Homo sapiens: one gene and its partner. The protein of the gene in region 1 purifies or fractionates together with the protein of each later gene. This does not show direct contact. Each region holds a gene or a part of one and is shown on either strand. Other genes may lie near its edges.

Region 1 (3,853 bases):
CCACTTTGTCTCTGCCTGTCCTCGTTCAGGCACCCCGATGCTTCCCAAGTGTTAAGGCAGGGGCAAGTTTCCTGCCAGGAAACTCAAGCTGGTGGGGAAGCTGGTTATCCATCTTGATCTCACTTTTTCCAGTATAGAAATGATGTTTCCATGCCCTTGGGTACCGGAAAGATTGCAGGGAGAGTCCTCATGGATATGGAAGTCTAATTCTCTTATTATCTGTATGGAGTTTTTTGTTGGTTTTTCACTTTCCTGTGGCTCCAGGAATTGTCTTCTTCTCATATTTGAATTCTAGGATATTGCTGGGGATAATCACAGCACTAATATTTTGTTGTTGTTTTCTGTGGGGGACATTAAAGCCAACTTACTTTTATGCCATCATTTTGGAGCCAGAAGTCTCCTAAATGTCTTTATTTTTATTTTTCAGGTATGATGACCAAACATAAAAAGTGTTTTATAATTGTTGGTGTTTTAATAACAACTAATATTATTACTCTGATAGGTAAGTTACATCCTTCATTTTATTTTTCATGGCTTTCTATGTGTGATCCTATTCCTTTCTGTCTCAGTCATGATCTTTTCTCAGTATCTCATTATCTTCCCATTATACATGATAACATTTAATTGGTACAAATGAATAAATTTTATTAATTACATGACCTATGTAAGGCATCAGAGATACCAAAATTATTGTGGTAAAATTATTCACCCTGATAATCTCACTTCTATTCAACACTTTCTTGCCTATGTTAATCACTATCTTGACTTCTATTGCTATAGCTTAGTTTTGCCTACTAAAAAATTTTATATAAATATAATCAAATTTAAATACATATAAAATACAATATACAATTTGCATGTATCATAAATACAGTCATGCAATTTGCATGTATCTTTGTATCTTTTCCCTTTTATTCAACATTATGCTTGTGTGATTTTTCAATGTCATCATAGGTAGCAGAAGTTCATTAACTCACTATTATGGAAAAAGGTTGAAATTTTTTTTATAAAAAGACCCAGATAGTAAATATTTTATGCTTTGTTAGCCATACAGTCTCTGCTGCAACTACTTAATTTTTCATAGAAACACAGTCATAGAAAATGCATAGACATTGACCATGGCTGTGTGTCAATAAAATTGAACATGGAAATGTAAATATTATAAAATTTTATATGTCACAAAATATTGTTCATTTTTAATTATTTTGATTACTTTATTTCTTTTTAAAATGTAAAAATTATTTTTACCTGGTGGTTGTACAAAAACAGAAGGTGAGCTGAGTTGGCCTCAGGCTGTATTAGCGGATGTTTAGTATAGTGCATTCACTGCTATGTATCACTTTTGATGAACATTTGGATCGTGTTACATTTTGACTATTGCAAATTGGGTGGTTGTGAACAACTGTATAATTTTATATTTTTGTCTTTTAATGAATACTGGAAATAACTTGAGATATAAGAAGAATTATTAAGCACAGAATACGCATAGATTAGCTTAAGTGTATTTTACCAAAAATGTAGATAATCTCAGCAGAAGTATATGAGAATTCCAATTGCTCCATGCCATGTCAATACTTTATTGTTGGTTTTATCAATTTTTGCCATTCCAGTGAGTGCATGTTGTTACCCGATTTGGGCTTTAATTGACGTTTTTCTGATGATCAATACTGTTCAGTACCTTCATAATTGTTGTTTATTTAGGTGTAATATTTTGTGATGGGAATGTTTCAATACTTTCCCCATATTTTAGTAAGTTAGCTCTCTTTTTCTGCTTGGTTCATAAGAGTTGTTTAATATTCTAGATGAGACTCTTTGTAGTTTATAGGTATTGCAAATATCTTCTTTAACTATGAAGCTGAAGTTTACCCTCTGTGTCATGTCTTTCAATCGACAGAGCTTCTGAATTTTAAAGTAGTGTAATTGTGTCTTTCTCTATTGTCACTATATTTTTCATTCTAAGAAATTCACTTTACTTCAAAGACATAAAAATATTTTTGTAGGGTTTCTATTTTCCTTTCACTTTCCAAAATATAGTCCTCTTGAAGTTGATTTTTATAAATTTTAGGAGATAGATATTAGGATGCATTATTTCCCATTTAGTTAATCTTTCAACCTGAAATAACTTATTAAAAAGACTATACTTTCCCTACTCAACTGCAGTTGGTCTTTGTCATCAATCAACTGTGTAGGTGAAGGTCATTTTTGCTAAAATTTTATTACATTAATTTACTCTATTTTATCTATCTTTGTATCTATATCATTCTGTCTCAATACTGTTGGTTTATAATTAAGTCTTGATGTCTGGTTGTTTAAATGTTTTAAAAGTTTTATTTTTATTCTTCAAGTTTACCTGGAGCATTTTAGATCCTTTAAGCTGCCATATAAATTATCTGTAATTTTGATTGAGATTGCATTAAACCATAGTCAATTTTCATGGAATCATTATCTTAATATTGAATCATACATTTAAAATATTGATTCGGTGTTCCGTAATTTCTGCCAGCAATTTTTTAGTTTTCAGAATAGATTTCACACACATCCTTTTAAGAATTTTTTAAAGACTCAATGCGCTATAATGCAATTGTAACTAGCATAGAAGTATTTTCATTAACACTATTGTCCTATTTAGTCTCTTGCTGGCCTATAAAAATTATCTATATAAATTTAATATATACCTATATAAGCCTCATATAACAAATTTGCTATAGTTAACTATTCATTTTCATAAATTTTCTTCAGTTTCTTTTGCAAGTTCTATGTAAAAATTTACATTATCTGAAAATAATAATTGTTTTACCTATTCTGTTGGAAACCTTATGCCTTTTTTATTCATTGTATTCTCTTATTTTACTGGCTATAACTTCCAGTATAAGGTTGAGTATAAGTAGTAACAGCTTACATGTTTGTCTCATTCTTAAATCAGTAAAATTTTTTTAATATTTCCCAATTTAGTAGTAGTATTTGCAGATATTCTTAATCAGATTAAAGGTGTTTTATTTACTTCCCTTTAATTTAATTTAAAATATCAAATGCTTTATCTTGATCTATTGAGATACTTTCTTTTCTCTGCTAATATGTAGAACTACACAGATTTTGTAATATTGAGATAAGATAATCTTCAATTTCTGTGATAGATTCAACTTGATCATAACCTATTAACCTTTTAACATTCTTCAATTAAGCTGAATAGTATTTTAAGATATATGCACATATATCCTACGTCTTCATAAAAGATCTACCTATAGTTTCTCTTTCTTTCAATACTATTATCAGGTATTGATGTGATTATGATGGCTTCTAAAATTTGGTTGGAAAGTATTCCCTCCTATCCTATTTTCTGAAAGAGTGTGTATAACGTTGGTGTTATGCCTTTCCTAAACGATTAGAAGTATTTCTAATTGAAGCCATCTGGACAGGGAGATTTCTTTTTGTGCAATTTTTTAAGTTAAAGATTTAATTTTTTAACTAGATATAGTGTTATTTAGATATGCTGCTTTTATCTTGTCAGTTGTGTTAAATTGTGTTCTTCTAGAAATTTCTCTACTTTTTCATTCTTTGTGTTGCTAATTTGTGTTTTTATCTCTCACAGTTACATTTTTTAAAATCAGTTTTCCTAGTGGTCAATCCTGTTTTAGAGTATTCAACAAAAGTCATCTTATGACTTTAAACTTTTCTTCTATTTGGCATTAATTTTTTATTCAATTGATTTCTGTTCTTTTTGTTTTCTAAATTGTGTCTTTCTACTTTGGTTTTAATTTATCACTATTATTAACTTTGTAAGGTAGGATAATTATCTTTTCAAAAAGTCTTTCATCATTTCTAAAACATAATCTTAAGCCAATAAATTTTCCTG
Region 2 (3,500 bases), on another chromosome or scaffold:
TTCTTAAGTCCACATGATTCTGTTGAAGCCCTGCATAACTGTCACTCATCAATGTGCTCAGCAACCAGCTCTTGAGCACCTGTTCTCTGCAGGGACCTGCAGTGGGCTTGGGGCGCAGAGTGATGCGTAGCAACAGCCCTGCCCTCACAGCCTTCAGCGTCTGTGTGGGTAAAGGGACTCAAGTTGATTTTGGCCAGGGTGAGGCTGGGCACAGTAATCTTCAGGGAGAGAAATGATGTGTGTGAGTGTAAGTGTTCGCTGAATTTTCTACAAATTGAGGGAATACCCTTTAAAACTTTTTCTTTTTCTTTTTTGAGACAGAGTCTTGCTCTGTTGCCCAGGCTGGAGCACAGTTCACTGCACCCTCTGTCTCCTGGGCCCAAGCGATCCTTCCACCTCAGCCTCCCAAGTAGCTGGGATTGCAGGTGCACACCACCATGTTTGGATAATTTTTGTGTTTTGCGTAGAGACATCTCACCATGTTGCCCAGGCTGGTCTCGAACTCCTGGGCTCCAGTGATCCTCATGCCTTGGCTTCCCAGAGTGCTGGGTTACAAGTATGAGCCCCTGCCCTGGCCCTAGAACATTTTTAAAAACCTGTTTTGTTTGTTCATTAGGCTTCACTCTGACCTGGCCTGTTGTCGTAGAAACTATATTTGTGTAATTCTGTCAAAGCATACAATGGCTGAAGTGGGAGGGGTCCATGGTGGTGGACATTCTTCAATACCGTTCATGTAAAAGTGGCATAAAAACTAGCAGAATGCGATATCTCATCGTGTTCTGGCTTGAATGAATGAATAAAAGAAAATGAGTATGTAGAGGTAGAGGAAGCCGCTGGGATCCAGCGACACCTGTGGTTCAGCACACAGGTAACTCCTGCTCTCTGGTGATTTGTGTCCAGGTCTGCGTGGGCTGATCAACCTTGGGAACACATGCTTCATGAACTGCATCGTGCAGGCCCTGACCCACACGCCACTTCTGCGGGACTTCTTCCTGTCTGACAGGCACCGCTGTGAGATGCAGAGCCCCAGCTCCTGTCTGGTCTGTGAGATGTCCTCACTGTTTCAGGAGGTGAGCGCCATTGACTTCTGCAGGGGAACATTTCTGTTACTTTGTTTTCACCTTCAAAAAAAAAATTTAAGGTGGACCATGATAAAGGAAGATACATTTAGAACCTTTTGTAGTAAGTTAATGTTTAATATACATGTCTATTATGGAAAACACAGTTTTCCAAAAAGGGAAGACCTGGCGTGATTTTTGGGGACGCACTGCTGACTCAGAACAAGGAGAAGCCCTTTGAGAGGCTTGTGGCAGAGACTTCCCTGGTGGGTGACATTTGTCTCTAAAGACGGGTGATTCTCCCCCTTCCTCTTCCTCCATGGTCTACCTTCCTGGCTCAGAAAGGCACGCATGTGTCACCCTCCTGTGTCCTCCTGGTATGCGAGTCTCCTCCACCGCCAGGTCTCTCTAAGCATGCCCCATCAGAGCCTCTGTCCTCATGAGCTACGCGCTGCACGTTGGCTGTTCCTGTGGGCTGCACGTGTGGCGTTCCTGTCCACTTCTGTCCCCGGCATCAGAGCATGGCAGCGTTCAGAGCAAGGCGTTCACGGCTGCCGCCTCAGCCCTCACCGGCTCCGTGACCTAGACATGCTTCTCAGAGCTGAAGCAGCTCAGTTACCTCAACTAATAAGCAGGCTGGTGCCTGTTCTTCAGGTGCCTTGCACAGGAGCCAGCCAACAGCCCTGGCCTGTTCCCATTCGTAACCTCTGCGAGAGATGCAGCCACGCCAGCTCACTCATGTCTGTCTGGTCACTGGTCGCTTTTGTGGGACAGCCACAGAGTTGAGCAGTTGGACAGAGGCTATCCAACCTGCAAAGCTGAAATTATTTACTGTCCAAGCCTTTCAAAAACAGATTGCCAGCCTCTGGTCGAGCCTAACCGATTTCCTCAAAGTACCTGCAATGTGCCATAACTGCTGGGGACACGGCCCAAATAGGAGAAAGGAGGGTGCAGCTGGGAAGTTGGTGGGTGGTTGTATCACTGACTTTAGTGATAAGCTCACTTGTGTTAGATTGTTTTTAGACTCCGGCTTGTTAAGGTGTAAATTACAGTCACACCCACCTTCTAGCCTATAGATAGATGAGTTTCGACGAATGCATAGTTGTGTAACTGCTGCTACTCAAGATGAAGAACTGTTACCTCTCCGAACTCCCTCGTGCCCCTCCGAAGTCAACCCCCAGTCCCCAGACCCTGGTAGCTGCCGATCTGTCTTCGGTCCCTTGAGTGTCCTTTACCAGCGCATCATACGGATGGATGCATGCAGGAAGTAGCCTTTCTGAATCTGGCTGTCCCTACTTAATGTAATACTGGGTGGATTCACCCGTGTCTTGCGTGCATCCATGATGTGTGCTTTCGATGTCTGAGTTGGGTTCCATTATGTAGATGGGTTATGGTTTAGTTGTCTGTTTCCCAGTTCAGACACATTTGGGTGGTCTGTGGTTTTGGGTTTTTTGATGAGAAATAAAACTGCCCTGAATTCTGTATTTGCACAGGCAAGACCCCTCTGTGGGTTCTGACCTGGGGAGGAAGCCGTGGGATGGAAGGTGTGCTGCTGGGTCTGCGGCTGGAGTTGAGCTGTTGGAGAGGACTGGCTGGCAAGCCCTCAGCTAATTGCCATTAGCCTCAGAGGCAGAGAATCCTGTGGCTGATGCTGGTGAATTCTGCATAATCACAGTGATGTGCTTCCCTTTGCGGAGGTGCTGGTGTCCATGGGCCTGAGTGGTTTGGCTAGTGCTTTGAGGAAACTAGTATTGGGCAAATCGAGTCACTTTTATTTGCATGTGATCTCATAGTAGCAAGTCATAATTCATTTTTTAGGCTTATATGTGGAAAACTAGATGGTAGAAAGGAAAAAATTCATATGAGGACTCGAAAAGTCCAGTGAGCCCAGATAAAAATAGACTTTGCAAAAAGTAGAAAAGTAAAATCCAAACATTTGTGTCAAATGAGCCACAGCCAATGGTAGGCATCTGATAAAGGTTTTGATTGTGTGTACTCTGTGTTCAGAGTCTACATTTATTCCTGACAAGGTTTCCTTCCCCGCCCTCTGGCAGTTTTACTCTGGACACCGGTCCCCTCACATCCCGTATAAGTTGCTGCACCTGGTGTGGACCCACGCGAGGCACCTAGCAGGCTACGAGCAGCAGGACGCCCACGAGTTCCTCATCGCGGCCCTGGACGTGCTCCACCGACACTGCAAAGGTGGGCCCTGGGCTCTGCACCCTCCACCAGGGCAGGATGTTTTCCTTGAAGGGGAAGGAAGCAAAGCGAGTGTATGCACTCGTGCAAAAAGGGGCACAGGTGACACATTCCATTGTTTTGTCATCATAGCCCTTGTCGTCATTTGTTTCTGAAGTCACCATAACTAATGACCTCAGAGAGGCTCCTCCTAGTTTATTTTTAAGAGGCGAGGAAGTAGTTCCAGCAGTATGACAGGTCCTC

What was found. Proteins that work in one complex are often made in the same cells at the same time.
Region 2: the proteins of CLEC2B (region 1) and USP22 purify together in Homo sapiens (co-immunoprecipitation; 2 studies listed by BioGRID and IntAct, with this or other methods). This does not show direct contact.

Annotation. Positions count from the first base shown.
Region 1 is NC_000012.12:9,859,148-9,863,000, reverse strand, and holds part of CLEC2B (C-type lectin domain family 2 member B), read left to right. Parts: intron 1-427; 5' UTR 428-429; coding exon 430-502; intron 503-3,853. UniProt on the Homo sapiens protein: Membrane-bound protein expressed on myeloid cells which acts as a ligand to stimulate the activating receptor NKp80/KLRF1, expressed on the surface of natural killer (NK) cells.
Region 2 is NC_000017.11:21,015,512-21,019,011, reverse strand, and holds part of USP22 (ubiquitin carboxyl-terminal hydrolase 22), read left to right. Parts: intron 1-900; coding exon 901-1,070; intron 1,071-3,112; coding exon 3,113-3,260; intron 3,261-3,500. UniProt on the Homo sapiens protein: Deubiquitinase that plays a role in several cellular processes including transcriptional regulation, cell cycle progression or innate immunity.